2 separate regions of the Homo sapiens genome follow, and region 1 is linked to region 2. The links come from fine-mapping of genetic effects on gene expression. A gene starts in region 2. The other region holds a variant in brackets. All regions are shown on one strand. Distances are from middle to middle. Region 1 has its middle 87 kb from the start of FEM1C. Region 2 holds the start of FEM1C (fem-1 homolog C).

Evidence for each region. PIP is the estimated chance that this variant, and not a neighbour inherited with it, causes the effect.
Region 1: its variant is fine-mapped to the expression of FEM1C in whole blood (INTERVAL, PIP 0.97).

Annotation. Positions count from the first base shown.
Region 1 is chr5:115,449,866-115,466,618 of GRCh38, forward strand. No RefSeq gene overlaps it. Among named protein-coding and RNA genes, the nearest start is that of FEM1C, 87 kb to the right of the region's middle. RefSeq lists an enhancer at 10,437-11,636. The variant A/G (reference allele first, on the strand shown) is at 8,095.
Region 2 is chr5:115,540,766-115,557,306 of GRCh38, forward strand. It overlaps FEM1C (fem-1 homolog C), which reads right to left and starts at 4,010. Exons shown (of 3, transcript NM_020177.3): 1 at 3,758-4,010; 2 at 2,185-2,918. The coding sequence starts at 2,728. RefSeq lists enhancers at 3,559-4,325, 3,867-4,161 and silencers at 3,591-3,760, 3,811-3,860, 3,961-4,300.

The DNA.
Region 1 (16,753 bases), 91 kb before region 2:
GAAGAGTTTACAATCTGAGAGGACAAATAAGCTACATCCACAACTATAAAGCCCTTGTAGAAAGTAATAATATGTGTTCATCTTGCTTCCTCTTCTAAATATAAACTTAGGGTAATAATTTTGCCTTATATTCTTCTATTCCCACCCTCATTCAAAGTTCAGGATAGTGTGGGACAGAGATTTCAATAAACCTCTGCTACTTAAGGGACTCGTAGACTTGAAAAATATCTGAAGAGAACAAATCTGTCTTGAGCCAGAAGATGTCCCAACTAGAGGTAGCAAACTGGTGGCCATGGGGCCATATACTGATTGCAAATATATTTTAATGATCCTCCTAAGGTTTTAAATATTTAAATTAATTTCTCAATCTTTATTAGGTTGAAAGATTACATACAAAAATCTGGATTTCCAGCTTCTCTTGAAAAACAATTACAGTTAGCAACACTAGACCCACTGAATGACCCTGGACAACAATTGGCTGGGGCTGACATACGTGCCTTTTTGGGACACAGCCAAGACTCTCCAGGTAGCCACAAGTTTTTCCCACCCTATTTAAGTTACCAGCCTGGTCCCTGTAGGCAGAGTTTGGAATCCCTGATTGTACCCCACCCACCAGTCAGGTTCTTCCTCCAGCACCATGCTAAAAAATATTTCAGATTTCTCAATGACCTCTATTTCCCAGGCTGATAAATGAAGGCCCATTTCGCAGGGGTCCTGTGGAGCCATTTCCTAGACCAATTACTGCCTGTGACCTCATTCCAGTTCCTCCTGCCTTTCTTCCCCTCTGTTTAAAATGAAAGTAAGCCAAGACCCTAAACAAAAACAGGCTTTCATCCTCAACCTCCTTAAAGAACAAATTAGAGCCTAAGCTTTAAGAGCAACTATTGTCAGCCCATCTCAAGCCAGAGTGTCTCCCCAGAACAAACATCAGCAACTTTTACATGGCCCAGAGGTCCAGGGCCATGGGGAAATAGAGGGAATTTCCCAAGTTAAGCAAGAATTCAGTGCTACCAGTTCTGAAAGGGTTTTTAAATACAATGTGAAAGTTCCAGAAGGCCTCTGAATTTTGTTTGTAAAGCAGATATGCAGCAACTTCTGGGAAGCTTCCAGATGATTAATGGAATCCACACTTTCTATGTGGCTATCCCATTTACTATAGACTCAGCCTCCAGAACTGAGCAAAATCGTACCATCTGTGAATCAACTGAACTCCCCTTGATACCCATTATCATAGCAGAAATACTAATGATGAATATGAAATGTAATTGCTGGGTGGGGCCGAGCTAGGATGAGACGTGAAATGAGGCAATGCTTCAAGTGAAAATGTGTGTTCAATTAATGTGGCATTAAATTCCTCAGGTTTTATTGTAATCTTATTCATTCCCCACAGTCGATCTTTTCTGAGAAAATTAAAAAAAAAATACATTACAATTGCACATTGGTTCTGATGTGACTATGCTATCGTTCTCAAACTTTTGAGAAACACTATTAGATGTGTCAGGAGTGTGTTTCCTAGATTGTTTGTAATACAACTAAGGGGCAGGAGGCTATCACCTTGAGAGGTGCCACAACTCTAAACAAGCAGGGGCCTTCCTTGTTTAAACTGTCTTCTTTGACTGATTTGTGACTAGAAATTTACCAAATGCAGCTTCATAGGGGTGTGTGTGTGTGTGTGTGTGTGTGTGTGTGTGTGATGACGAGGAGCTCTAGCTGTGCAGCTGAGCAGGTGTTGGAGAAGCTGAAGGTTAATGATTTAATTCATCAAGTGTCCCAGCCTCCCATGTGCACAACAGCAGCCCACACCCAGCCACTCCCATTGTTCTGGTGGGTGGGACGGAGGGCTCTGGGCACAGACTCAGGTGGGCCAGTCCGAGGGCTGTGGCAGGCAAGGTGAGCAGTTCTGGCAACGGGGTGTGGGTGGGCTCCCACAGACCTAGACAAAGGCTCTGCTCCTACATGCAGTATCTGGTGAAAATAATAACAACATTAAAGAATAACATGAGCATATAGAGTTCCAGGCCTCAGCAGGACTGACAGTGCTTCTCAGCAGGGGCCCCTTGCTTCAGAGCCAGATTAGCTAAGTGCTAACCTGAGTAGGGGTCGCTCAGCACTCAGACCCTCTCCCCGCAAGGGCACTGAATCCTGCACATCTACTGGAAGCCCCAAAAGTCGTGACCCCTGCTATTTCCCTTTCCCCACCTCTCTGTGTCTGTACAGACCTATTAGCCCAGAGGTCACAAATTGCAGCCAAGGGCTGGGGTCTGCCTGCAGGGGGGTTTTGTTCATCTAGCAAAGTTTGATCTTTTTTTCTTTACCCTGAAAACCTTCACTATGGCCCTCATCAGCTCACTGGCTTGCATTGACCACTTCACATGCTCTTATCTGCCCTGCAGGTGAATGTGATCCCTAGACCTTTAACACCTGGCTCTGAGTCCTGCCCGCACCTTCCAGGCACCACTCACTCCAATGGCTCCACTCCTGGGCTCCTTGATACAGGTACTCACAGTCCTACCACACGACTTGATTCTTGTTGATGGTTTAGTGTATGCTTATCTCAGTATTATTTTTGTCAGTATACATGTGCTCTGTCTCTTTTCTGTTGTAAACAGTGAGCTCCTTAAAGACATGGATTACAGGTATTTCTCCACAGGTTCTCTTAGTAGTGGGTAGGAAAGGAAAACAGTTGTGAAGATCCAGCTCATTTCTTCTCATAACATCCTTCAAGACGTAACAAAAGAGATCTGTTACACCCATTCCACAGGTAGGGTATCAAGGCCCACAGACTGATGAAATCAATCACAGACCATCAGTGGGCAGGGCCTGAATCTGAGCCTAGACTTTCAACTCAGAGCTCTATTAAGTTTCTTATCTTCCTTTGACCTATCTAGGCCTTTTTCCTACAAGTGAAATGAAACAAAACAAATACTTCTTTCATCTAAGTGAAGAGAAAATAGAAGAAACCAGTTAAAATTTTCCTTTCTGTTACTCATGGTGGAGGCAAATGAACAGTGAAGCAAATTAGCCAAGTTGAGCCACTTTTCTCAGCAAAGCCGTACTCTCTGTATGCTTCTATTATGCTTGTAGGAAGAGTCCAGAGTTTCCTGTACACCTCACTGAGTTCCTGAGCCCTTACTGAATGCTCAGGGGAGCTTAGGGTATGCTGAGGCATGGTTCAAAATTCCACATAAATGCAGCCAACTTGGAGGTGTTTTGAGCTGTGGAATGCAAGTGTGTCTTTGCTTGGCAGGAAAAAATTGCTCCTTTATATCTTATTCTCACTGCTCTAGGAAAATTGTAAAAATGACAAAGTTACTCCAACACCTGTCCCCACCCTGCAGTGAAGTGGAAGTGGGGAAGGAGAATCATTGATGATGACCACGGTTTACTGCCAGCTCTGCTGGTAGAGGCAGGGCTCATTTTTATGTTGTCTAGTAAAATCGAGCATGCAAGTGTTCTTGAAATGAATATACCAATAACAAGGAAAGAAGGGCATATTTGGGAAGGGCAGAGGCTGTTAGGAGAGAGGGGAGCTGGTGCAATTAAACTGCTTAATTTCCTCTGAGTAGAGCCAGAGCAGTCAGGCACTTGGTTGTTGCTGAGTGGGAAACCTCTCTGTCCTTGGGGTGGTTTAAGGTCTCCAGCATATCCCACATAATGGGGTGGAGCAATCGGTGCTGAGACCTTACTCTTAGAAGCCAATTCAAGCCAGGCCTCATTCCAGGTGAGGTCGTACCTGCAGCTGAGCTAGCATTAGAATATCTACTGATTCTTAGATTGGCCTATCTCAGTGCCACAGGACTGGCTTGAGGCCTAGAACACAGTAGGAAGATAACCTGGTAATTCACCTGAGCTCCAAAAGGGGAGGCCTTAATTTCCACAAAATCCCAAAGTCATTCAAACAACTTTGGAAAGCCTTTCAATCCTCCAAGCAATCCTTCCACCCTGCCCAGCCTCAGGACACCTCCTCACTTTTTCTGTATCTCCACTTGAGGTGACACATTCTCACCTGACTGGGTCTTTTTAGGTGATAGTATCTTCCAGTGACTTCATGAGATGCCTGAGCAATGGCCCAAGACTTAACAATATAGATTCCATTCAAATACCTCTAGGAAGCCTCCAAGGTAGAAATTCAATGGCAAGAGGTCAGCACACCTTGGCTGGCTCCTAGGGGCAAGTGGATTAGATTTAATTTAATAACATGAATAGATAATTCATTAACATGCTTCAAAACTCAAAATGATGTCAGAAGTGCCCTTTAAAAAGTCTAGGTCCCTCTCCCTCACCACTAGCTCATCTATCCCAGTCTCTACTTCTCAAAAGTAACCATTTTATGAGTTCCCTGAATATCCTTCCAGTGTTCCTTTATGCAAACACAGGCAAATACGTACTCTTTCCCATCCCTTACACAAAATGTAGCAAATTATATACAAAGTTTTGCATTTTGCTTTTCCACTTAATAATATATCCTGGCAATTTGTATTAATTTACTGAAAACTTCCTCACTCATTTTTGTAGCTGCATAGTGTTTATGTGGTTCTGCTATAATTTATTTAACTGGTTTCCTACAGATGAACCCTTAGATTGAATTTAATCTTTATTATTACAAAACAGAGCTGCAGCTGAAAACCTTGTACATACATCTTATTATACATATATAGGTATGTATGTAGGTAAATCCCCAGAAGTGAGATTGTTTGGAATGCAACTGTCAATGCATTTGTAATTTTAAGGAATATAACACAACTGTCCTCCATAGACCTGGCCTGTTTGACCCCTCACAAGTATTGTAGGAAAGTGCCTGTTTGTCAAGTGAAATGTTGGAGAGGAAACAGTTCCTTGTGCCAGGGCAGCCCTCAAGACTCCACGTGAAAGAGAGGTGAAAGACAGGAGACGGTTTGTGTTGCACTGCGTGGCACTCAGAAGAACACTGGAATGAGTTTCAGAGAAGCGAAATCCACTTGAGTTCCTGTGGGCCTTAGAAAGTGTTCTGCAATGGGATTGCCCTTTGGGAGACCTCTTTCAGAGCAGAAGTTGAACAACTGCCTTACTCCTTTGATGAAGGACTCAAACATTATTTGAGTTTTTGAGCATATGATACTTGCAGTGTCAATAATTCAAATCCTGGTTATAGCAGGAGGGCAAAGGGGCCATGCAGCAGAGCCCTGGCCTGGGAGTTGGGATTTGTGTGTTCTAAGTTCACATCTGCCTTTCTGTGACTGAACTCACCTCTCAGCTTCAGATGCCTCACTTGTGCAATGGTTAAATGATTCTTGCCCTTCCTTTCTTTCGGGATCATTGAAGAAATCAGATAATGTGGACAGAAGCCCCCACAAACTGGAAACTGCTCTTTAAATGTAGGAGTTATTATTCCTGAAAGGCAGTGTCCAATCAGAATGCCAAGAACTGTGGGTCTGGCAAGGCAAATGAATGAAAAGTAGGTCATGAGAAACCGAGTCCGTTGGTTCATGGAGGGTAATCTGGGTCGTCTGTGGTGAATGCACACGTCAACCTGTTCTACCCATTGCAGACAAGGGCTCTGATTGGAAACCCTCTGACTCCTCCGTGCTTCTTGGCCTTTGACAAGTTTATCACAGATGGGAGAAGGACATTCTGTTTCTTCAGTGTTATGGGCTGACTCACTTCCCTCTTCTCTGCAATAAGCACAAAGGCCAAAGTCAGTCCACTCTACCAAGAAACAGCAAAATGGCTCTGAGAGTGGTGTCCTTCCGGATTGGTGGTAAGGAAAATATGTCTATGAATATTCATTCACTGCTCATTTAGGAGTGTTCTGTGTAAAGACTCTTTGAAAGCTGATGAGAATGGGCATAAAAGGTTTGATTAATTCCTGAGTCAGCTGGCCCCTACCCCAAAACACATGCAATGATTGTCACAGAGAGCTGGTTTACAAAGAAAATGTTTCTGCAGATGTGTGGGCTTGGTACTGCCACCGCCACCCACTCTCCAACAAGAATAAAACAGACTCTGGGATTGGGCTGGGCCCTTTAGGGTTAAGCCACAGATCCTAAAGTCAAATTAAATATCAGCTCCTGAAGGGAACATCCCCAATGCTCACATTTTCCAAGATGTCAGGTCTGAGTATAGGGGACCTCTATCTGAAATTCCTCCCCTTTCCTCTCTGTGTATTCAGGTCCCATCTATCCTTACAGACATCGCAGGCTCTACTGGCCCTGGTGAAGTCTCGCCTGACTGCTTCATCTCACAGGGATATTTCATTCTTTTGCAATCAATGAACTCTTGTAGGTCCCTCCCTCTAGAGAGTTAATTACACACACTTGCCACCCTGTCACGTCTCCCTGCATTGTTGGCTTACTATAATAATGATCTTCATTATCATTACCTGTTTATATGTTCTTTCTCTGCTCAAGCGATCCCACATTCATTTTCCCTCAACAACATATACTGATCACGCAACATGTACCCTGACTCACTGATGAGGAATCAAATATAAAGATAATAATAATGATGATGTAATAACCCCAAAACAATATTTACAGAGTACTATACCCCAGCTTCTGGGCTACACACTATCTTATTTAATTCTCACAACAACCATTTGAAGAAAGGTTTGTCATTATCCCCATTTTACAGATGAGGAAACAGGCTCAGAAAATCTAATAAATCTGTCTGAGGCTACACAGCTAGCGTTTGATGAAGTGATTGGTAAATCCTCAAGAAACAAGGTTAGTGGGGAAGAAAAACAAATGGCCCTGCAATTTCAGCCCGTGGAAGAGCTTCTTTGGTCAAGGGCAGAGTGCCGTGGGAGCACAGAACTATCAGAACTGTGGACAGGTGTCAGGGCAGGCTCTAAGAGGAAGGCAGAGCCTGAGCCGAGTCACAGAGGATCAACAGGAGACGGCAAAAAAGGAGGATCCACTTCCTAGGAACAAAGGTCTGGGTGTCTCCAGGGGCCAAGTTGCCTCATCTGTTCGCCTAACTCCTCACCTTCAGCTCCACCCTCCAGGGGACCCCTTCTAAATCAAGCCTGTTCTTCCGGGAGGGAAACTGGGGTGTCTACCCTGAGCCCTAGGTTTGGTGGTGGCAGTGGGTGCCCCAGGATGTTGCAGTTATTTTTGATGGCTATTAATTTACATTACAAGCATACATACTTTCATAACATCTGGCGCATGCTGGCTGCATTGCTCTGGGCTCTGCAGCCCTCAAGGATTTGCCCTCCCTGGAATTCTTCCTGCAGTTTCCCCACAGTTCCCCTTAGGAGTCTAAACTTTTGTGGAGCTTTATTGATCCTGGCCCCAGACCATTCAGAAAAGGCACTAATTCAATTACAGCTGCGTGAAATCCTTCAGAGGCAGCCTAAGGAGACTGATTTTGATTCTCCTTTTCTGTGTCAGTGGTTTCCAATAGACAGTGTTTGAGAGGCAGAGCATATTCTCTTTAAATTATAAATAACCAGAACAGGGAAAAGAGGTGGCACTGGGAACGGGGCAGGAATGGGTAAATTTAAAAAAAAGCTGCAGCAAAATGATAAAACCCTGTGGCTTCAAAAATGTTTTATGAGTTTCTATAAGGCAATAACACAGAAGGGAAGGTCCTTTTTAAAATCTATTTTCTGAGATGGTCTGTGCTGTATACACTGTATACACATTGTGGCTAAATCTCTGAATTCCTAATACAGAGATTGAAACTAAAATCAAGAAAGCAGAGGGGATTCCACCAAAATCATGCAGACCATCAGGGGTCAGTTTGGAAACCACCAATCCTGTTTAGATATACAACCAACTGCTTCCCCCATTCATGGTGTCAGGCCTCTTTCACATTTATAGCGCCTGGAAAACTCCAAGAAAAGAAGATAACCTTACGTCGCAGACCCTGTTAAATTACAACCAGCAATGAGTCACCTGCCACCTGCTTTCTAACAGAACTCAAATTTTGCCTACTCTCCCAAGGATCCATGCACTTTAGGGATTGGCCTAAGCCTCTGGGAATTGGTTTGGCATGGACATAGGAACCAATGCTGGCCAACGAGACACACGGGCAGACTCCCGGGGAGGCTCCTTGGAAAGAGATCTTCCCATCTCTTCAAAAGATAAATAGACATAGATAGGTATAGGCATA[A/G]GCATACAGTAGAACTAAAATGAGAACATTTTGACTCATGTAACTGAAAAGTAGAGGCACTGCATGGGAAGAAGGATTGTGCTGGACTCAGAGTCCACAAAACTTGGTCTTTCTCCATTCCCAGTCTCCTTTGTTCTGAGTTGGCTTCGCACTCAGGAAGCCTCCTCCCACAGATGGTTCCCTATTAACTCCAAGTATGCATAATTTTACAGCCAGCAGTTCCCAGGTGATATGGTTTGGACGTGGTTCTCTCCAAATCTCATGCTGAAATGTGATCCCCACTGCTGAAGGGGGAGCCTAGTGGGAGGTGTTTGGGTCATGGGGGCGGATCCCTCATGAATGGCTTAGTGCTGTCCTTGCCGCATTGAGTGAGTTCTTAGTCTGTGATTTCATGTGAGAGCTGGTTGTTTAGAGTAGCATGCCACTCCTCCTCTCTCTCTTGCTTTGTCTCTCACCGTGTGACATTCTGGCTCCCCTTCGCTCCACCATGATTGTAATATTCTTTAGGCCCTCACCAGAAGCACCAGTGTTCTAGTAAAAGATCTAGGCTTGAGTTTTATCCAATCAACTTAGGAGATGTGTTCATCTCTCAGACAACCACTGTAACATGGGGAAAGAATATGCTAATTGTCCATGCTGGAGTTACTTGCTGGCTGCTGAAACAGGACATGGGGTGGAATCAGCCCACACAGACCACTTGCAGGAAGAATCAGGGAGGGGTAGTTCCCCTAAAGAAAAATGGAGAATCTGCTAGTAGAAGAAGTTGCATGGATGCTGGCCAGGCATGGGAGGTGTCCACAAAGCAGGGTGATGTAGATCATGGTGAGGAGTTGGGATTTTATACTATGAGCACTGGGAAGCGATCAAAGCATTTTAAACAGAAGAGTGATCCACTGACATATGTTCTGATGACATTTCAAAAACAAAATTCTTACTGCAGGTTACAGAAAGTACTTCAGGGAGCTAAGCTTGGAAGGATTGAAATCAGGGGCTATGATAGAATGACAGGCAGGAGAGCTTGGTGCCTTGAACCAGGGTGGTATTTGTAGAAATCAGAAAAACATGAACATATTTGAGATACTCTTGTGGAAGAGCTGATGTCACTTGTTGATGGATCAGAGATGGGCTAGTAAATGAAAGAAGTCAAGCATGATTCCCAGGGCTTGGGCTTGATCACCTGAGTAAATCATGATGCCATTTACCAACAGGAGAAAGACATGGGAAGTGGGAAGACAGGGATGAGCTGGGAGGGCAAAAATCAAGAGTTCTGTCATGAATACAGAAGAACAGTCTGTGCTGGAATTATAAATCCAGGAATCATCAGCATATAGACATTATTTAAATGAGAAAGACGGAATGAGATCACTCAGGAAATCATGTAGAGAAAAGAAGTGGGGGCACTCATACTACTTCACCAACAATTTCTCCACTCTGTCCAACCCGGTCCTCTTGGGTTCTGAGCAAATAGGGGTTCTCTCACCCCTGGACTTCTTTCTTGTGCCATTCTCATTGCCTGCAATGCCTTCCTCCCTTTTCCTAGTATCCCTGAATGCTCATTCTTTAAGGATCAGCTCAAATCTACCCTCTCCAGGAATCATGGGCCTTGTTTAGCCCCACTGCCAATGTCGGCCTCCTTGCTTCCCGTAACTTTGTTTATTCACTGCACATTTGGCATTTGTAAGTCAATGTCTTCTGCTCTGTGTATATGTCATATTTCTCCCAATTAGAGTATAAGCTCAGAGAAGGCAGTCTGGATGCCTTTACACTCCCCAGTATTTGGCAGGTTTTCCAGAAAAGAGTTAAAACAAACATCTGTTGATCAATGACCACATTCACTCTTATCTTCTCTTGCTACTTTTGTGCCAGTGGTTGAGAATTAATCTCAAATTCTGAGCAGCTCAGCAAGGGTGTTTCAATCAATTTCTTGAAAATAAGGCAGCAATTGTCAAATGCTTTAAGACACTTATGGCAAATAAATGCTTGTGGCAAATAAAAAGAATATGACTCACTTCATATTGAAAAGAACCAGATGAAAGTAGTTTCCCACAGAGGAAAGTCATAGAATTAAAATGAATGTCTATGAACCACTTCAACTATTTTTGCATCTACCCCTGAATAATATTCCACTTAACTGGAACATATCTCAGTGTGTTTGTGCCCATTTAACACTCCCTGTCTTCCCAACCCAGCATCTGTAACTTACAGCCTGTAGTCATTCCAAAATGCTTCCACGTGGCTAACCTGGGTTGCCAAGCCCCATCTGGCTCAATTAGCACTGGAGATTCTGGAGAGCCCCAAATTATCATTCTTTTCTGGTTGTACTACCAAAGACCTTCCCATCCTATCTCTTCCTCAAACTCCCTAAGTTCCATAGTTGTATTTGTTCCAATTTTGAATCCCAATAGTCCCCAGCTGTTTTAGATGCCCCGCCTCCCCACCCCCATCTGGGCTCTCCTGGCTGGGCTTCCCATGACAGTATTCTCCAATTAGGCAAATCACCCTTCAATCCCCAAATTTTCTTTAAAGCTGTAGCAAGTACACCCACAGTCGTGACAATACTGAATAAAATGGAATAGGTCTGATTCACTTTCCCAAAGCTGACTTTTGCTGCTGATTGACTCATATCTGTTTACCAGAGGTCATTTGATTTCCTCCTTTTGACTCATGCTCAACTTCAAAACTGATATAACTTGAGTGTGCCACTCGAATGTGACCTTCCTTTTTGCCTGCAGAACCTCCAGCTCCACTCAGCTCCTGGGGCTCAGCCAGCAGAGCTGTGCAGTGGAAAGGAATCCACCTTGGAACAGGATCCCTGGCTTTACCACTTCAATTGCTGAGTGATCTCCAGCTAGTTAGTTTCAGCCTATTTCCTCATGTGAAAAATTGAGGTAAAAATACTTGGAAATATTGTTGTAAAGGTTAAGTAACGTAAGAAAAATGCCTGGAACCATGTCTTCCACCAAAGTAGGTAGGGGCTCAACAAATATTGAATTGATTCATATGACATTGCCATTTATATAGGTCAAAAATGGCCAAATATTGACAATTTCATATGGTTCAACCTGCCATCAGCCTATTACTCAAGCACCTAAGAAATCAGTGTCCAATTGGTTGGAGTATTGGGTACAAACAAGGTAGAACCTTAGAGGTAGAACCCCAGTGTTGACTTTTATTTACATTATCAAAGAATCAAGGAAGGCCAGCACCCTACTATGCACTTTAAATTCTGGAAGATTTTCTTCACTCTTAGCTAGTTAAACAAAGCCGATTTAAGAGACAGGATAAAATTGTGGTTTAGAGCCTAGACTCTGGGGAGAGATTGTCTGGGATTAAATTCCAGCTCTGCTACTGACGAGCATTGTGAAACTGAGCAAGTTTGTTAATCAACCTGGGTCTCAGTTTTGTTCCCCGTGACATAGGATATTACAGGGTGTTGTGCAGATGAAATAAGTTAAAACATGTAACATTCTTAGAATCTGGAAGTGTTAACGATCATTATCTTGATTTAAAATAGGTGGTTTGGCCTGACTAGTTAGTGAAATCTCTTTCACAACAAAGCACCCATTGGGTAGAAATCAGAACTCCAGCAATGGAGAATCAGCCTCCCCTTGTTGATCAGTCCCAGTTTAGCAGCTGGGATACTCCTTGGGAAGCTCAAAGATGGTAGGTGTCACCACCCATGATAGCTCAGTGAGAATCCACCCAGCCAGTGATGAGTGCTTCAAGGGTGGGGCAGAGAATATCACACAGTCATTTGGAGCAGTGGTGATTCATGCACACCCTGAAAACCTCAACAGAAAAGAGATGGTAGCAGATGAAAAGGAAGAGGGATACAATTTCCACAACCAAGAAGAAACAGACACTGCTCATTCTGGTGAGAAATGAGAGCATAATTTGAATTCAGCATTTATTTAGAAAATCAGATTAATGAGGACAAAGACATCATAAGGAAAATAATGATAAAGACCTCTAGGCTTTCCCACAATCACTTTCATGTATATTATCAAACTATATCCACACACAAAAAGTCTCTGAGTCAGATAGGCAAAGCCAGCATTATTTTCATGTATGGATGAGGAACTGATGAATCATGGAGTTTGAATGGCTAACTAGAGTCTAAAAGAATGTAGAAACCCATAAAAGACAAAGAGAATAAAGAAAACAAGCAGACAAGAGAATTCCACACAAGTTTGAAAGATAGGACCAGATGGAGGTAAGTGGTTTAGTAAGACAGAGGAAGCAAGGATTTAAGTCACCTGAAGACAAGTTACCACAAATGAATTAGCTCATTCATCCCAATGGAAAACCTGAGATGCTCAAGATTTGGAGACAGCAGGTACAATGAAGGGTTGGGGTGAGGTAAGGAGCTAAAAATAGAAGTTGAAAGTTCGTTTGTGAAGCAGTCATGTTCTTCTCTCACCTTGCACAGTCAGGCCACTAGTTTCCCAGGCTGGTGATGAAAGAGTTTTTTTGTGTGTAATTTGAATGGGAAAGGCTTTGACTTGGGGCTACAGAGATAGGGGCAACAGAGGGGAGGGACATGGAAGTCTGCAAACTTAACCAACTTCTCTTCATTTCTCCCTCCCTACTACTCTTCTCCGCCTCACTTCTCTAAAGAAGATATACAAATGGCTAACAGGTATGTGAAAAAATGCTCAACGTCACTAATTGTTAGGGAAATGCAAGTCAAAACCACAATGAGATATCATCCCACCCCAGTTAGAATGGCTGTTATCAAAAAGACAAAAACTAAATGTTGGTGAGGATGTGAAGAAAGGGGAATGCTTATACACTGCTGATGAGAATGTAAATTAGTACAACTATTATGGAAACAATATAAAGGTTCCTCAAAAATCTTAAAATGGAACTACCATATGATCCAGCAATCCCACGATTGGGAATATATCCAAAAGAAAGGAAATCAGAATATTGAAGAAATATCTGTACCCCCATGTTTATTGTGGCACTATTCACAATAGCCAAGATAAGGAATCAACCTGTGTCCATCAACAAATAAATGGATAAAGAAAATGAGGTCTGTATATACAATGGAATGCTATTGTATATAAATACATTTTCAGCCATAAAAAACGAAATCCTGTCTTTTGAAGAAATGTGGATGGAACTAGGGGATGTTATGTTAAGTGAAATAAGCTCGGCAAAGAAAGACAAATATTGTATATTCTCACTTATATGTGAAACTGAAAAAAGTTGATGTCTTGGAGGTAGCGAGTAGAATGATGGTTATCAGATTATCTTTTGACAAATTAAATTATCCTAAAGAAAAAGTTTCCAGCTTTATTGATTGACCGATTTGCATTTATGAACTCCATGTTCAATCACCCACATTGTGCACACGTACCCTAAAACTTAAAGTATAATAATAATAAAATAAAAAAAGAAAGAAATAATAAATAACTTATTTACCTTTAAAAAAAAAAAAAAGATCATCATCACACCACTGCACTCCAGCCTGGGTAACAGAGTGAGATCTTGTCTCAAAAAAATAAATAAATAAATAAAAATAAAAAGAGAGAGAGAAAAAAAGTAAAGTGACAATAAAATTTCCCAGGAGTAAAAAAAAAATCTCCAGATTGAACACATTGCTTTTATGAACAGAAAAATAAATTAATTAAGGCCCACCCTATGCCAAACTATGTAATTGTGAGATTATGTGTTACCCCCAAATTATGTGAGAAACATTATGAGATAATTGTGTCCCCAAAGAGAGGGGAAAAGTCACTTACAAGAAAATAAGCATGAGGAAGGAATAGGATTATACAACACTTACAATAAATGTTAGAAGAGATCAATAAGATAGTGCCTTCAAATATGTGAAGGAAAATTAAGTTTCAACCTAGACTTTGAATCTCAGCCAGACTATAACTCCAGAGAGTTGATAAAATAAAGACATTTTCAGAAGAGTAGGAATGCAAAAACACTACCCCTATTTCTTTTTTTTAAAAGCAACTGGAGGACTTTCAGTTATCTTAATGGCAGTCTAGACCAATCCTCCTGATGAGGTTGACTAAAACAGCTATATATGTATATTGAGTAACGTAGAGGATGAATATATACATACATACTTTTTTTCTTAAAATCCTTAAAAAGCAAACTAGTGAGGGATTACCATGCCAAAAACTTGGGAGAATATAAGAAGGAAAAAGCAAGTACTCACAGATGCACTGGCCCTGATTAGGAAGAAACAGCTGCAGTATGGAGCTGTGGTATTTGGCAGCCTCACTGAACAAAATAGATAAAAGGACCTGCCAAGTGGAAAGTCTGATAAATACCCACACATTAAATGAAGGTCCTGAAGGGCTTTACTCTTAGGGCAGAGCTTCCCAAACTTGTGGGCACATTAGAATCACTGGAGAGCTTTTAAAAATTCCAAAGCCCAGGTAACACCAGAGACCATTCAAATCACAATCTCTGACTGTAGGAAACAAGCATCAGTACATTTTAAAGTTTCCCAGGTGACTCAAATGTACAAACAAGTTTGAGAATCGCTGCTGTTAGAGAAAGAATAAATTGAAATCAACACTGTTCTCATATGGATGATCCAGGGAATCTCAAGCCTGAAATTTCAATTAAGGTAGTCTAGAGTGTCAGAAGCAAATTAAAATTTTCTGTGGAGGTAGATGTTTTCAATCTATGCCCAAATTATTTCTACGAATAAGATTTCAAATACAATGTTAAGCATAAGGTCTGTATGAGACATAACCAGGGAGTAAAAAAAGACAACAGAAACAAGCCCACAAAGATTTCAGATAGTGAAAGTATTGGGCACAGCCACCAAAATCATGTTTTCTGTCTTCAGACTGAAAAAGAAAATCTTGAACATTTCAATTGGGAAGTGGAAACTTTAAAAAGTTGCTTTTATTTGAAAAAGGACTGAGTAGAAATTCTAGAACTAAAAAATACAGTAACTATAGTTAAGAATTCTACAGGTTTACCAGATATACAGGTAGAACAGATATAGCCAAATATTAGATTAGGGAACTGGAATATAAATTAGAAGAAAGTATCCAGAAAAAAACGAAAGGATGAGTATTGATTGCCAAATATTTGTTTGCATGGCCAGAGAGTCAATATTTCAGATCATGCAGGCCATACTGTCTCTGTGGTAACTAGTCAATTCTGCCACTATAGTTCAAAAAAAGCCATAGACAACAAGCAACTGAATAATCATGACTATATTCAAAACTTTATTTACAAAAACAGGTGACTACCTCCAAAGCCACAGTTTATCAACACTTAACATAGAATGAAAATTTTAACATATGTATGTTATGTCTTGGAGACATAGGTCTCCAAATAGACCATAAGGAGAGTAATGGGGTACAGACAGTAAATGAAAAAAAAAATTACCAAGAGTTTTTTAAAACTGATGAATGACACCAATTCAAAAAATTCAGGAGTTCAATAAATCCCTAATATGATAAATATAAAGAAACCCATACCTTGGTTTGCAAGAAAAGCAAAGAGAAAGGGAAAATCATAAGCTAGAGAAAAAGAACACTTTCAAAGTTGTGACAGAGTGGCAACTAACTTCTCAGTATCAAAAAACAAAGACTGAAAGGTAAGACCTCAAACTGTAAGAATCCTAGAAGAAAACCTAGGAAATACCATTCTGGACACTGGCCTTGGGGAGGAATTCATGACTAATCCTCAAAAGTAATTGCAACAGAAACAAAGATTGACAAATTGGACCTAATTAAACCAAACACCCTCTGCACAGCAAAAGAAACTACCAACAGAGTGAAAAGAAGACCTACAGAATGGGAGAAAATATTCACAAACTATGCATCGGACAAAAAAGATCTAATATCCAGAATCTAAAAGAAACTTAAATCAGCAAGCAAAGACAACTCCGTTAAAAAATGAGCAAAGGACATGAACAGACACTACTAAAAAGACATACAAGTGGCCAACAAACATATGAAAATATGCTTAACATCACTAATAATCAGAAAAATGCAAATCAAAAGCACAAAGAGGTACCATCTCCCACCAGTCAGAATGGCTATTACTAAAAAGTCAAAAAACAATAGACGCTGGCAAGGCTGCAGAGATAAGGGAACACTTATACACTGTTAGTAGGAATGTAAATTACTTCAGCCCCTTTGGAAAGCAGTTTGGAGATTTCTCAAAGAACTAAAAACAGAATTACCATTAAACTCAGCAATCCTATTTCTTTTATTTAAAAAAAAGATTCTTCTAACAAAAAGATACCTGCACTTGTATGTTCATTGCAGCACTATTCACAAAAATGAAGACACAGAATCAACCTAGGTTCCCATCAACAGTGGATTGGACAAGGAAAATGTAGTATATACATACCATGCAATACTACACAGCCATAGAAAAGAATGCAATCATGTCCTTTGCAGCAACATGGATACAGCTGGAGGCCACTATCCTAAGTGATTTAACACAAGAACAGAAAACCAAATACTGCGTGTTCTCACTTAGAACTGGGAGCTAAACTCATGGACATAAAAATGTCAAGAATAGACACTGGGGACTACTAGATGGGGGAGGGGCACAGGGGTTGAAAAACTGTTGGGTACTATACCCGCTATGTGAGTGATGGGATCATTAATACCCAAACCTCAGCATCATGCAATATACCCATGCAACAAACCTGCACATGTAC
Region 2 (16,541 bases):
CAATAACATAGGCTTTTAAAACATATCCCAATTTGACTTAAATATGAGTTTATCAATAATATCTACATCAAGCTGATGAATAAAAAGCCCAAAACAAAGAAACAAAAAATTCAACAAACCTAAACAAGCAGCCATGATTTCAAACCATTCCCAATATTAACATGGTTAGTTCAGCAGTAATTTGTTGTCTTAAAACAAGCATTCTTCAAAAGAATGATAATTGTTTGGAGAAAAAAGAAAAGCCATGCTGTCATTTGATCTACCAAGCCACCTCTAAAGATAATCAGGAACAAATGAAAACACTTATTAGAAAGAATGTTTACAGAAACATTTTTTATCATACTGAAAAACTGGAAGCAACATAAAACTCCATCAGTAGAAGAGTATGCAGCTATTGAAATTAAAGAGCTATAATTGGTAATATTAAAGATAACATTTATTAAGCTAAAAAACAGGTTATAGAACAGCATATAAAACTGCATACATATATCAGTATGCAAAATTCAGAAATATCTTTGGAAGTATTATCCCTGAGTACTGGGATTTTGTGGGATTTTTACACTTCCTCTGGAAAAAAAAATTCAGAAAAATCACAATGATCTTGTATCATTTTTATAAAAGATCACACTTGTATCATTTTTATAAAAGATCACACAATCTACAGCAAATATGCTCAGTAACTATATAGTGCCCCATAATTGTGTGGTTTAACCTTTCTGAAAGGCAGACACTATCACAACTGCAAATGTACATTCACTTTGATTTAGCAATTCTGAACACAGGTATTTATACTACAGTTATTCTCACACAAGCGTGAAAAGACACATTTTTGTTCAAGAATGTTCACAGCAGCATTGTTTATATTAGCAAAGTACTGGATGTGACCTAAATATCAACCAATAGAGACTAGATAAATTATGTACATTCATACAATGAAATACTGTATAGCCACAAAACAGAATGAGGTAGCTATGTGTGTTGGAGTTGAATGACATCCAAGGTTAGAAAAATAAATAAAGATAAAAAAGTATGTAATCAACCACTAGACGGAGGGCTACACAAACAAGCATGCTTGTACATAGACAAGTATGCTTGTATTTGCATAGACCAACTCTAAAAGGACACATAAAAAACTGTAAATAGTGGTTGTCAGCGCATTAGAGATCTAGAAATCAGGAATAAGACTTTTTATTCAAATGTAAACCAACAATGTAAACCAATTTACACTGTTTGATTTTTTTTAACATGTCTATATGCTACTTTTAAATTTTAATGGCTTTTAAAAATTAGGTAGTGAATTATTTTGCTGTCGTATAAATAGATTCGTGTAAGGGAAGTTAAGGTTTTCAAGTATCAAAATTATGCTATCAAGGCAGTTGCTTTTAAGGGTTAAAAAAATTCTAAACTACTTTTTGCTGCTTTTAGTTTATTACAATCAACAAAAATTATACACAATCAAAAACCGGAGCCCTTCTTCTGGACAAAGGTGTTTACACTGTTGCTAGCCAACAAATCCACATCTGTTTAATCTAGTCCTTGTTCTTCACTCTCAGTATTGAAGCAGTTTTAAAAATGTGTTTTCTCTCTTGCTATATTTAATGCATGTTCTTATAAAAGGATTATCTATTGACCACAAACAAATATAGAATAAGGGAACAGATTTGCTCCTTTCCACTGATATTAATCCTTCCAGGTCAGTTTAGCCTAGCCTTCTCTGACAGAAAAAGTGAAATGACTGCCTAGAACAAACAAGACCATGACTCAATAAATATAGTAATTTCTACTCCAAGGTTGTTCTAAAAAAAAAAAAAACAAAACAAAAAGCTAAGAAAAATGTATTACATTTAACCATATTCCCAAGTAGATTAAGCATAAGCCTAAAGGCTCAGATCAGCTACCACTAACATGCTCTGTAACTCTGGGGAACCCATTTCCCAAGAATTTTAAGTTACTCCAAATAAGAGAGAAAATACTGCTTAACAGAGTAACAGAAGTCTTTTATCACACTTTTTCAATCTATTACCAAACATCATAGAAACACTCAACAAAGTCATACTGGAAGACTTACCTAATCAAAACAGGTCTGTCAATGCTGGTTTACTCAACACCAGTGCTTATAATGATGTATCAAACTTCCTGAAAATAAGTGGTAGACATTTAGAAAAACAAAGAAGCTGAACTCACCTTTGACACTTTTTCTATTAACATCTGCCCCCTTTTCAAGTAAATACTGAGCAATCTCTTTATGTCCTTTGTAACATGAAATCATCAAGCACGTATGCCCATGTCGGTTTGACACTTCCAAATCAGCTTTGTGTTCTACAAGGTACTTCACTATTTCCAAATGGCCATCGAAACACGCAGCTCGAAGAGGAGTTGAATTGGTTAAAGTCGTGTTGTTGACAGATGCTCCATGATTTAACAAGGACTGGACCACCTTCAGATGTCCTGCTGCAGAAGCGGCCCATAAAGGGGGAGCCCCCTCAATGGTTTCGCCATCAAAATTGACGGAGCCCCCAACTTCTATGGAGGCACTGCATTGCTCTAGGAGGAATTCCACCATGTCAAGGTGCCCATACCTGGCGGCCATCAAGAGTGGCGTGGCCCCATTTGTTTTTTCAGAGATCAAGGAGGAAACCTCCTCTTTGGATTTGCTTGCCAACAATTTGGTGAGAAGCCGGAGTTTGCCATCCCGAGCTGCGTTAAATACTGCTGTCTTTAGATCCATTTATGTCCAGTTGAGAGGCTGTGCTTTATTTATCTTTCAAAGCAGAGCTCCAGTTTAACTCTATCGACACAGGCAAGAGTCACAGGAACCAAAGTCCAATGTTAATTGCTGCACCCCAGAACGGATACACAACCACGAAGAGTATGTTCCGTCCTACTGCTTTCCAACATCTGACAACCAGGGCACCAAACTAGAGAAAGAAAAAAAAAGTAGCAGCATTTAATTTTCTATAGAAGAAGGCAAAACACTTCTTAATTTCCACTTCTGTGGGAAGAAAGGAATAAAAGCTATACTTCAGGCACTACTCCATCCCACACACCCCCCCCACCCCCAAAGAAAAGGTGGTAAAGAAAAATACAGAAGGATACACAGAGACCCAAATGTTCTGGTCGCAGGCAGTCTCCTCCATGTGCGGAAAATTTAAACACTACAGGCAGCCCGTTTTCTCGCCTCCAGCTCTAACCAGCCAAGCTTTGTTCTAGTTTTGCTTTGCACACGCCCAGGGAGAGTACAACCGAAAGAGGCAGGAGACTCGGGTTCAGAAATGTTTCTCTTTCTTGCAACTGCAGGAGAGCTGGCCAAGGGCGCCAGGCTGGAAGGCCTGAGGCCGGGTTTCGAGAAAGAACAAAAAGGTCGGACACACCAAACCCCGGCTAAGGCCAAAACTGTGCCCCGAAAGATTCTCTTTCCTTTAAAACTACTCACGGCTCTCAGGAAATCCGCCTGCCTTTTAGTCATTAACTTCGCCCGCCCCATTTCGATCACCCCCCACCCCCCGCCAAGGGATGATCCGCAGGTTCCTCAAACCACAGTCGCCCCAACACAACCTTCCCCTCTCCCTGTTCCAGACAACGGCAGCCCCCTCCCAATCTCCTCCATCGACCACAACCCCCTCCCGATGGGCCAAGCTGTGGCCTCCAGCCCGCTGCCCGCCTTCGGCTCCCCCGGCGCCCTCCTTCCCGCCCAGGCCTTCCGCGGGCACCTCAGGCCCCGGCCCGAGCCCTGGCAGGCCGCTGCCGCCGCCACTACCTGCCCGGGGACTAGTCCTCCCCGCCGCCGCTGGTCACTCGGGCTTTGTCCGTCCCCTTCAAAGGGAAACCGTTGTCCCCACCGCCGCCCGGGCCGCCCTGCTCCGCCTGCGGCCGCACAGCTCCTCCATGCTCCGCGCCCCAAAGGAATGAATCCGGCCGCGCTGTTCGCCACGCCCCGCCACCCGAGCTGCCTCCCGCCCTTAGTCGGCTCGGACTGCAGCGGCTGCAGCGACTGCTGCGACGGATGGTGTAATGGGCTGCGAGCCGGGGGCCGGACAAGCCTGAGCGTCACATCACTGACTGTGCCGCCACGCCATTGGGCCGGGGGAGGGCGGCGGCCGCGGCCAGCAACAGCCTAGGCGCGGGGCGGGGCGTCGCGGCCGGGGTGGGGCGACGGGGAGGGGGCGGGGCCTGAACTACTGGGAGGACGTGCCTGCGTGCAACGCGCTGGGGGGCGGGGCGCTGCGAGGGGGCGGATCTGTGCCCATCGAAGCGGCCCGAGGCAGCTCGAGTTCTGAGATCTCGCTGGCTCTTCTCCTCTCGGATTTTCGGGGTGCTCCCTTAGGGAATCTTTCGGTCCCATCTCAGAGACCCCAGAAGGGAAGTGTATTAGTGCGTTTTCACGCTGCTGATAAAGACATACCCGAGATTGGGTAATTTATAAAGATAAAAAGATTTAATGCACTCAGAGTTCCACGTGGCTGGGGAGGCCTCACAATCAAGCCAGAAGGGGAAAGGCACGTCTTACATGGCAGCAGGCAAGAGAGGAAAATCAGAGCCAAGGAAAAAGGGAAACCCCATATAAAACAATCAGCTCTCCTGAGACGTACTCACTACCACCAGAGCAGCATGGGGGAAACAGCCTTCTTGATTCAATTATCTCCCACTAGGTCCCTCCCACAATATGTGGGAATCATGGGAGCTAAAATTCAAATTTGGGTGCGGACCAGTATTACCCTCACACACGTGAAGTCTCTCGGACTAGTCTTCCGTCCTTACTTTGGTGGGCCCTGGAAATTACCAAGCTCGTAATTACACCTCAGAACACACACGGAGGAAACTGAAATTTCAGAAAATGTGATTAGTTTTGGAGGCTGTCAAACTGACTCTCTTTCTAAAGTAGCCTCTAAAAAGCATAAAGGCTACGAGGAATGGTAAACCCTAAGAGCAATGTAAAGTCAATGAGGTCAGGTTCTTGAGCTCTGAGTAATAAATCGGGAACTAAAGCTTAAAAGGTTATATATATGAATGAAAAGAATTACTTCTTCATATAGTAGTTGATAAACCTCTGGAATTTGATGCTAAAACCTACGTTGCATTAAACTAGGATGAAAAAGTTTAAATGTGTTTGGGAAATAACGCCCATAATGAATCCTGATGAGAAAACAGAATTTTTGAAAATGGACCTTCAATCACTTTGTTTGAGGGAACTTAAGCTCACATAATTCCTTAGTACCACTAGGAGAAATAGAATATTACAGTAGGCAGTCTGACCCTCAGCATATGTAATCCATAACGTTATGTTAGAAGTCATGCAGCACTAAAAACATTTATAAAAAATCACAACTTCATTTTTGTATATTGTAGTGTTGTTCAGAAGTTTATGTAGTTTTGCATAATTGAAATAATTTTCATACAACTATATATTTTGCTTTTCCTTTCTATACTCTAAACGTTTCTTATGTTTTTACAGTCTTAATAATTTTTAAGTATAGCATAGTATTTCCCTTAGGTAGTCAGTATCAGACTACACTCAACATCAGATTCCCAAAACTGAAGTTAAGGTAATTGCCACTGAGAAGAAAATATAAAAGAATAGAGTATAAAGGATAAGATTGACCATCCATAAAAATTAACCAGCCAAGAGGACTGGCTGTTTTATCCCCAGCATATGTCACAGTTCTATACTCTCCCAGGGTACAGATAACAGTGTACAGTGTCCCAACCAAGGCCTAACCTGAGCTGACCTGTCTCTCTCACCTAATTCAATAAGATGTAAACATTCACATCAGCCATCTTCAAACTGAGCTCTGTATCCCTCATGGGATTGTTAAGGGATAGACGGACACTTAGTTTAAAGGCTACCAATTTCTGCTGTGGCTCACACCTGTAATCCCAGAACTTTCGGAGGCTGAGACAGGCAGATTGCTTGAACCCAAGAGGTCGAGACCAGCCTGGACAACATGGTGAAATCCCAACTCCACACACACGCACACACACATGCACGCACACGCACACACACACAAAAAATTAGTCAGGCATGGCATGCAGGAGGCTGAGGTGGCAGGATCACCTGAGCTGAGCTGGGGAGATCAAGGCTATAGTGAGCCATGATCACACCACTGTGCTGCAGCCTGGGCCACAGAAGGAAACTCTGTCAAAAAAAAAAAAAAAAAAAGGCTACCAGTTTCTGAATCTTCAATTTACACCTACGTTCTTTCCTAAAATTGATCTGCTGGTAAAGGAATATGGTCAAGGTGTCTCATTTCCCAACTCTTTCACAATAGCTGTATGTTTCCCAATTTGTAAAAGGAAAGACATTTGAGAATCTTACAGGCATTGCTCTGGGTTATAAAAGGCTCAGCAATCTTTGCCAATTCTTTATAAATTTAAAACACTGATCTATATTAGAAAGTGTATACTTCTAATGACTGGGTAACAAATTCTTTTGCAAGTCAGATGATTTCCAAATAATTGCTTTGAAAAAAGTATGACCTAAAGATCACTGATATCGATTAGAAGGAGTTCAAAGAATTAAGTGACATTGATATAATGACAAAACTCCTTATAGACCCAACTACTATTTTTTTTTTTTTTAGACAGGGTCTTTCTCTGTTGCCCAGGCTGGAGTACAGTGGCACAATCTCAGCTCACTGTAGCCTCGACCTCCTGGGCTCAAGTGATCCTCCCATCTCAGCCTCCCAAGTAGCTGGGACAATAGGCATGCACTACTACACCTGGCAATTTTTTTTTTTTTTTTTTGTAAAGACAGCATTTCACCATGTTGCCCAGGCAAGTGTTGAACTCCTGAGCTCAAGCAATCCACCTGCCTCCCCCTCCCAAAGTGCTGGGACTACACGTGTGTGCCACTACACCCAGCCTCCATCTACTTATTAATGTGAAAACATTTTCTCAGAATTTATAAAAATGAAAAATTGAGAAAACATTGAATCTGAACTTTGTCTCATTCTAGTAAGAAGTAGTATTTAACAATAAATGTGTGCACTTAATTGTAAAACATCACATTTAATAATCAAAAAATTTATATTTTGTATTGTTTTGAATACTTGAAAATTACTAATAAATACAATGATGCCTCAATCTGGAAGAAAATGAGCACCTAGGGTCTTTAGTTATAAGAAACTTAAATTTCAACTTATATGTATTTCTTTATATGTGTGTGTGTGTGTGTGTATATATATATATATATATATATATATATATATGTATATTTTTTTTTTGTGACAGAGTTTTCCCTGTTGTCACCCAGGCTAGAGTGCAATGGCACGATCACGGCTCACTGCAACCTCTGCCTCCCAGGTTCAAGCAATTATCCCTGCCTCAGCCTCCTGAGTAGCTGGGATTACAGGTGCCTGCCACCACGCCCAGTTAATTTTTGTATTTTTTAGTAGAGACGGGGTTTCGCCATGTTGGCCAGGCTGGTCTTGAACTCCTGACCTCAGGTGATCCACCCACCTTGGTCTCCCAAAATGCTGGGATAACAGGCATGAGCCACTGTGCCTGGCTTTTATATGTATTTTCATTGCAGAGAAATATAATAGAGTGATTCATAAAACACATTCAGCTAGGCATAGTGGCTCACGCCTGTAATCCCAGCATTTTGGGAGGCCCAGGCAGGAGGATTGCTTGAGCCCAGAAGTTCAAGACCAGGCTGGGCAACAGAGTGAGACCCTGTCTCTACAAAAAACTTAAAAATTAGCCAAGCATGGAAGTACATGCTTGCAGTCCCAGCTACTCCAGAGGCTGAGGTGGGAGGATCACTTGAGCCTGGGAGGTTGAGGCTTCAGTGAGCTGTGATTGCACCACTGCAGTCTAGCCTAGGTAACAGAGCGAGATACTGTCTCAAAAACAAAAACAAAAAACATATTCAAACATAAAAGTACATTAATTAGGATATATTCCTGAGGAATGGGATGTGGAATGGAATTATAAATGCGAAGAGAAAATAAATTATGTAAAAATATCCTATAGGTAAATAATAATTTGTTCATATATTTTTTTAAATGGTTCATAGTAAGCATAACTGCTATGATATTTAGATTTCGTTGGATTCATTTAAAAGCATGTTTTATTTAAAAATGTTAATTTTTACATTTTGCGGAAAATTGCAACCTTTGCGAATACTTAAACTTATGATGAAAAATTTTAGGTGACAATTGAAAAATATGTAGGAGGGTAGATAGCATCTCATGTGCATGAGTAAAAATGTTTGAAGACTTAATTGAAATGTTTGGAGACTTATTCACAACCCCCTATTGGAAGTCATTTCCATTTCTAAAGAACATTTGTTCTTCCAATCTTTGATTTTTTTTTTCTTAAATAGAAAATCAACTAAATTTCCTTTTATATAGATTTTACATTGTGTTTCTAAATGCCCACCTCTTTTCTACCTTCCATCAATGGGAGGGACAACTTTTTTGTTTGGTTTGGTTGGTTTGCTTTGGATTGGTTTGGTTATTAAGACTTTGATGTCTGGTTAAATCAGCAATTACTGTCTTCCTGAAAGCCACAGAATGCTACTGGGGCATAACAGGAAGACTCATTTTTAAGGGGTCTGTAGGGGGAGCCAAAGACTGGAAAAGGGGAAAGGGACCAGAGACAGCCTCTGAATTACCCATTCAGGTAAGTACCCAGAGATGACAGACAAAAAGGGGAACCACTTCCGGGAGCCAAGGTGAATATTCAGGCTTCCCCGACGGGGGAGCAAAGTGTTACTTGCATCCAGAGCATTTCCCTAGGCCCAAGGCTTTATAATGTAAGCCCAGAGGAGACATTACCCCTTACCTGAAAGGCTGATGGGGAGGAGGAATTGGATCAGCAAAAAGGGGACACCCTAATTATAGAACAATGAACATTTTCAGGCCTATAAGTTGTTTTCTTCTTCTCACATATTGCCTTGGGATAAATTTCCAAGAGTTGGATTACAGAATGTCTTTTTGGCTTTTCATATACATTGTTATACTATTTCCTAGAAGACTTAGACCAATCTGTCACCACCAGCAAGGCACTATTGACTTCACCAAACATTGAACCCACTTGATATTATATTTTTTGAAAATTCTTACTGGTTTTGTATGTGTTAAATGATACCGCCAAGTTTCCCAAATTTACCTGGCTACCCTTGGGATTTTTTTGGTCTGTGCAATATCCTTGAATTAGTAGAACATTCCTTCTATAGTATTCCTTCTGGGGATTGTCAAACATTTAATTCCTGCCAGTCTATATTTAAACCAGAAACCTCAGTGAAACAGTTTGCTTGCACGGTTTTGGTATACTTTGGTAACTTGTTCTAATTTGAGAAATGGCCAGGATGAATTTTTTTTAAATCTCTAGTTTTTGGTAACTAACTGGGCATAGTTCTATTTAGAAAAGTATGAAAAGAATCTACTTTCATGAATTTAAAAGTTACACAAAAATAGCATAGCAAGGTGTACGCTTCTTGTGCTATTTAGAAATGTCTTTCTCATATAAGTCCGCTTTATTAACACTGATAATTTGCTCAAGGTGAGATATTTTAATTGTCATAAATTCATTCACCACCTTAAAAATTATTGAATCCTGGAATCCCAGCACTTTGGGAGGTCTAGGCTGTCAGACTGCTTGAGCTCAGGAGTTCAAGACCAGTCTGGGCAACATAGCAAAACTCCATTTCTACAAAAAATACAAAAATTAGGCAGGCATGGTGATGCACACCTGTAGTCCCAGCTACTCAGGAGGGTGAGGTGAGAGGATGGCTTGAGTCTGGGAAGCGGAGGTTGCAGTGAGCTGAGATTGCGCCACTGCACTCCAGCCTGAGTGACAGAGCCAGACCCTGTCTAAAAACAAAACAAAACAACAACAAAAAAAACCCCAATAAAACAAAGTTATGGAATCCTATTATGTACTATGTTAGATACTGGATGAATATGACATAATCTCTACTTTTGAGGAATTGATGGTCTGTAGGAGAAATGTAGCTATAAACAGATGAAAACAAAATATGTGTATAAACAACAGTGAGAGCCCAAAGAACAGAGCTGCTAACTCTGCTTGAGCAAATCTGGGAAGGAGGTGAAGGTTAAATGGAATTTTAAAGGATTAGTAGGAGGAAGCCTAGCCAAAAGTCAGCAGGAGGGGGGTGGGAGGGGGCACCATCCAGAATGCTGGAGCTGAGAGAACACGTGAGATGTTCCCTTCTTTCTTCCTGCTTCCCCCGTGCCAGGGAGAGAGTGGTGCCCTAAGCTACCCTCTGAACGACCAAAAATCCCTACTCCCCTCACTCAAAGTGTATCCTAATATTAACACACCATTTCCTATTCCTACAGCTCAACCAGCTTTCATATTTTCTTCATGCAGCTTCTCTCTTGCAGGTTTTAGGAGGAGTGAGACCCCACTTAAGGTTATTTACTTAAAGCAAGAATACTTCCTTGGGGTACTAGCATTTTAAAAAGGAAACTTGTGAACCCAAATTAATTTTAAAATTGTAGAAATATGCACGCAAGAATTCTTTTAGCAGGGAGATTTCCAGGTTCCCTTTGGGTAGTTTGGTCTTATCTTTACTTCTCTGAATGAAGCAAGATAAGGAGGCAGCAACTCAGTCACCAAATTCTGTTAATTTTCTCTTGGCCCAGTCTCCCTCTATAGTATGGGGTTATCATTTCACTTATCACATTATTACAAGCTAGAAATCTTATGTCATTATAAAAGTATCCATTTATTTCCTTTGTTGTCTTATTTCCTGAAGTTGTCAGGGCCCTAACTCTAGCTCTCTAGCCACACCCTAAGTGACGAACTCTGGTCCTGAGTTCCCCATCACCACCCAGACTGATGTCAGATGGGGCCAGGTTCTTCTCAGTTTTCAACACATGCGACCCCACCCAAAGTCACTGGATCCACGCTTTATTAGAGAGGGATGAGTCAGATCTCTACTAACCCAGTAGTCTATCTAAGTCTCCACACAGAACAAGGACTCCCTATCGTCTCCCATACCTGGGTCAAGGGCACTCCCACCTCCTCTCCCAGGCCTGGGGAGAGTGCCTCAGACTCCACTGCAATGCCCCTGTTGACCAGGACTAGACACTCGAATGATCTTCTGGTGCTTTCCTCTTTCAGAACTCACAAAACAAACTTTGATTTTACAGCCTCACTCTCTAGGTGTCTTCACATCCTGGCACCAGTTCCCAACTATATCAAAGCTGCCTTCTCACACACACACCAACACCATCCCCACACAAGAGCTCCCAGCCACCTCCTCAGATGCTTAGCTCGAAGGCCCTCTTCCCCCTATTTGAATAGGAACAAATCACTATGGATGATTCTCTCTCTCTCCCAAGGTGATTACTCCAAACTCCAGAGCTGCTTCAACACCCCCCCAAGTGCTCTCTGGTCTAGGAACCTCATGCCATTCATCCTCCCAGTGGAATTTACTATGTTCTAGTGTGGAATTCTGTGAGGATCAGCTCCACCTCATTTCCTATCCCCCTGACTTTCTGGGCGTCTAGTGACTGTGTCCACTGACTCTGTGCCTCCCACTCCATCTTTAGGTCCTTCCTACACAGGCACAGGGTGTTCCACTGCTGCCATTCTCTGAAGAGGCCAGTGCCTCAGAAAGAAAGGTCACTTTCCCCAGCCCCAATCCCACCTGTTTTTGGCTTCTTTCTCCTGCTGCCAATTGGCAGTTCCAATATGTCTTGTCCATATCCCAGCCCTGAACTCAGTCATGACGGTAGGGACCTTCACTTTGACTCTTTCTTGTTGGAGCCAGCCATGAACCCATCTTCAAACTCCCAATACTTATGATTGGAAACCCCCTGGCCAGTTGTTGCCTGGATTGTAACTGGGGCTACTGTATCTCTTAATAATGACTCCCATTTGGCTCTTCCACTGGCATTATTCTCTGCACCTAGGTTAGTTCTTCAAAGCCTGTCCCATTGTAGTGGGTAGGTCTCATGCCAAGTCTTGGCCTCTCTTCCTGCCACATGTGGCCATACATACAATCAAATCTTGAGTTACAACTGCTAGTCAGAGGGGATAAGCCCCTTAGTGTATGTTCTGTGAGTTCAGTGCTATTGTGGAGCATGCCTGAGGACCCATCTGAAGACTTTCATTAGTGGTAGGTCTGTGCTACCTAAGGTTCTCCCCATGAGAAGCATAGATCAGATCCTCAGAAGCAGGCTGGCAGATGTGTCCTTGACACTGAGTACTGCTGTATGTTTATCCTCTTTAAGCTCAGTACAGTCAATCAGTTTTCCATGATTTATTTTATTTTGGCTAAGTCAGTTTACTGTTATTTATTTTAACTAATAAGTAAGTGTTTTCCCATGTGCTTCAGACAAGCTTCAATTCCTTAGTCAGAGGCACCCAGTCCAAGGATACCTAAAACAGCCCTCACCTTCCAAGTCCTTATTGAAAGTAACCCTCTGATTAGCCATTTGTGGAGGGCAGGCATATTTCTTTCATCTATTCATTCAGTCAGTCGCTTATTCTTTCAACACGTATTTATTGCTGACTGTGTGCATTGCGCAGTGCTGAGTGAGCCTGGAAATACAGCATGCATGAGCAAGATTGTGTCATCTATGCCCTCCTAGAAAATCCAAAGAACCTCCTCTGGGCTGGGGTGTGGTGGAGAGGAAGGCTTTCTAGAGGCAGTAATGATTGAGCAAATGCCTGAAGAATAGGTAGGTGTTTTCGCAGGTGAAAGTTGCAGGCAGAGAGAAATGCTTACAAGCATTAATTCTAGATAAGAAGAGAAAGGTTGGCTGCTGAAGAACTAAAAGAAATCTCACATGGCTTTAAAATAACCCACAACAGGGGATCAGTGAAAAATGGAGAGTTTTGAAGGAGGCAGACTGGGGAGAATCTTAGGAAGTCATGTGAAATAATTTGAACTTGATGCTATGGCCATAAAACTTCCTTCAGGTGGAACCCAAACCTGGGCACAGGGGGCAAGGCTGGGCCCAGCTTCTGCTAACCTGGAGGGCGCCAAGTCAAAGTCAGCATCTGGTTGTCCTGAGAACAAGCTGGACATGATGTGGAAAACTGTCCAGCTAAGTCCCTCACTCCTCAGGCAAAGGGACCCCAGAATCTCACAGTGTCCCTTACCTGGATCTCTACCTGGATCTCACGGTATGCCTTCTGGATCACTGAGTAAAAGAAGTAATTTGCTCATGTTCCACCTCCACCTTAAAAACAAAAACAACAAAACAAAAAACAGAACACTCCTAAATTCTAATTCAGTGCGTCTATTCAGTAGGTTCTGGGGCTAGAATCCCTTATTTTCCCTGCCCAGAAGAGTCCTGCCTATTAGGGCTCTACTTTATCCAACTTAAGAATAAACAATAATGCCTACAGTTGTTTGTTTTGATAAAATCACCAGCTTGGGTCCCTCAGTTACAATCGCATACAGGCCCCACTCATGGTTCCTGGGGTAACATAAAGTTGCTATGCCCTGAATGAGAGGCCAAGGTGGGCAGATTCCTTGAGCTCAGGAGTTCAAGACCAGCTTGGACAACATGACGAGACCCCGTCTCTACAAAAAATACAAAATTAGCTGGGCGTGGTGGTGTGCACCTGTAGTCCCAGCAACTTGAGAGGCTGAGGTGGGAGCCTGGGAGGTGGAGGTTGCAGTGGCCCGTGACCACACCACTGCAGTCCAGCCTGTGTGATACAGCCAGACCCTGTTTAAAAAAAAAAAAAAAAAAGGAAGAAAAGAAAAGAAAAGAAAATGTCAGTTGTGTTGGAAAAGAAAATGTTTTGAGCAGTACCCTAGTTCTGTGGCTAGAGAGAGGAGAAAGAGCAATGTAATTTCCAGAAACCTTTTCTGGAGGACTAGATTAATGGAAGTGTGGATTCACCCAAGCTGTTGTTGGCTCTTAAGTTGGTTTTGTTTTGTTATCATTGTTATTGTTGTTCTTGGAGTAGCTTATAAGGTTTGAAGGATTTAGGGGAGAAGTCAAAGGCCTTGCTTCGGTGAAAAATTATGTGACCCTTACCTTCATCTGAGAATATTAGGCTGAGAGCTACAGTCTCCCCAGTTGATCCTTTGCTCTGTCTACAACCTGTTCATCTCTATTTATGTCTTGGGAGGCAAAATGGTGAAAACTGTGCTTTTTACATCTTCCACAGGCTGACAGCAATCTCACACTCAACCTTGTACCTATCATCAGCAGGACACTGACAGTGATGATAATGATGCTAAACAACCACCAATATTGACATTATTTTTAAGAACCCATTGTTTTCCAGGTCCTATACCTTATTTTACATTCCTAGCTACTGTAAGAAATATGTATTTTTAAACTGTTTGTAGAGGAAAACTGCTAGGATATACATGCAAGGTTTCTGTTGGCCCGTTTCAAAGAAAAATGTGTACACGTGGACTCAGGGTGGGGGTGGGCCCTGCCAATTTCCCAGCCTCTGTAGCTCCCTTGTTATAACTGGATGCCACATATTGCCCTGCCTACTTCCTCCACTCCCCATAGCTGCCATTGTGCCCTTTACTTCCTCTCTTAGGATCCTTGTGATGCTTTATCTATTTCCTTTATACAACTGGAAGGCCCAGGAGGGCAGGGGCCATGTTTGGATGTTCAATTCTGAGTCACCATAATTCAGCAGAGTGTGTGGCACACAGGTTGTCCTCAGTGAATATTTGCATAGTGAAAATGAATGAGTGGATGTGGAGACTCAGTCCACCTCTGTTCAGGCACAAGCTGGACTTTGAATAGGAAGATTCAGCCTTTCCCCTAGTTTCCAGGCCAAACTAGATACAGGGAGACAGGTTCAAATGTCTTTAGCGCACTCATCAGGCCAGCACCTCTAGAACAGCAGGACCCCCAACCTCGAGGAAGGAATGTATGAGCTGAGATCTGAATGTGGAATACCTTGTGCAAAGACCTAAAGAAGAAAGGGGCATGGCAATTCAGAGCTAGCAATGACAGCTCTTGTGCTGACCATGGGTTTCCAAATTGTTTCTTAGTTTCCTTTGTTGCTAATTAGTATTATAGTTTGCTGCTAATAATAGCAGTGAGCATTTATTTAGTGTTTCTGTGTGAAAGAGGCTGTGCAAAAAAGGTTTAGCATTGCTACGTTAATTTTTATAACAGACATTGTAAGTACTTCTATACAGATGGAGAAACCAAGGGTTAGAGAAGTTGAGTAACTTAAACAAATTCACATGGCTAGTAAATGGCAGGGTGGAATTTGTCTGACTTTAGACAGTCTGGGCCAGAATGTAGGTACTACGTTGCCTCCCCAGTATATTTCCTCAGTAATGGGTCTACTGTCTCCAATTTGCCATTCTCCATACCCCCTCAGTCCCTAGGTCCTGGGGCTGAGCTGCTGTGTATAGTTGTCTCCCTGAAGGACTCCCATCTATTTGGGACCTGGCCTGCAGCTTATAGCTTGCAGGACCACATCCCCATCACTGGAGAAACACCAGCAAGAATGGGCCCCACCACCTTGGTCTTGTTTTCTATCCTGAGCAGTTTCCTCTAACTTGCTTCCAACCTGCTTTCTTCTCCCATTCCTGACTGCTGGACACCTAATCCCTAGATTCACTGCCCATTTGTAGACTTATTTGCCCTTCAGATCTGATATGTGACCAGATTCCACTGGATCATTTGTGGATGGCTCATGTTGATTATGGTTTGCACTTACCCCTTTTGTTTTGCTGTTTCCAGTTTCTTTGAGTAAACACTTCATCTGGGAAATCCCATCCTCTGAACCCTGCCCGCTATGATAGGCTCCATGAGGATGTCCATGCCAAAATCAACATAACTGAAGGAGAGATGGAACCATGGCATGGTCTGAACCCCTAGATCCCGCCATGTCAGAGGTCAAATATCCCCTGGCCAGTGCCACTGTGTTGCTTGCCTCCAGAATCACTGAACAGTGCTCCCTGGAGTTAGGCAACATGCTAACCCTGTCCTAGCCTCTCGGATATATGAACAAACACATCCGTCTTCCAACGCTTTTTGTTTTTTGTTTAGGCCAATTTGAGTTGGATTTCATTCATTGCTATCAAAAGATTTCTGACAAATAGTAAACAAACATAACATATACAAAGTGAGGTCAGCACTAGGAAGAAGAAACACATATGCTTTTAAGGGTGTGCAACAGAAGCCATGACCTATTCTAAGGGGTCAACATGGGCTGCTTTGAGAAAGTGTTACTTGATGTGAAAGCCAGAGGAGGAGCAGTTAATTAGGAAGTGAGTAGAGCAAGGAGGAGGAGTCCAGGTAGAAGTAAACACTGTTTCCTAAGGACATGTCTTGAAGTGAGAAAAAACTCAGTGCACTGTGAAAGCAAATAGAAAGCCAACACGTGTGGAGTATTGTGAATAAGAGGGAGATGTGGACCCCCCAAGCTAGAGGCAGGTAGGAACCAGACCATGCAGTCCACAGAACTCTGTAATCATGGAGTATCCAGACTAGTGATGAATGCAAAGTGTTTTTCACTTGGCAGAGAAATAACTTGGTGGTGAATGTAGGAGTGGTGGTGCCAGGTGACAGAGTTTTTCAGATGGTCCCATTAACCCTTCCAGACTGAGGCATTAGCCTCCTAAC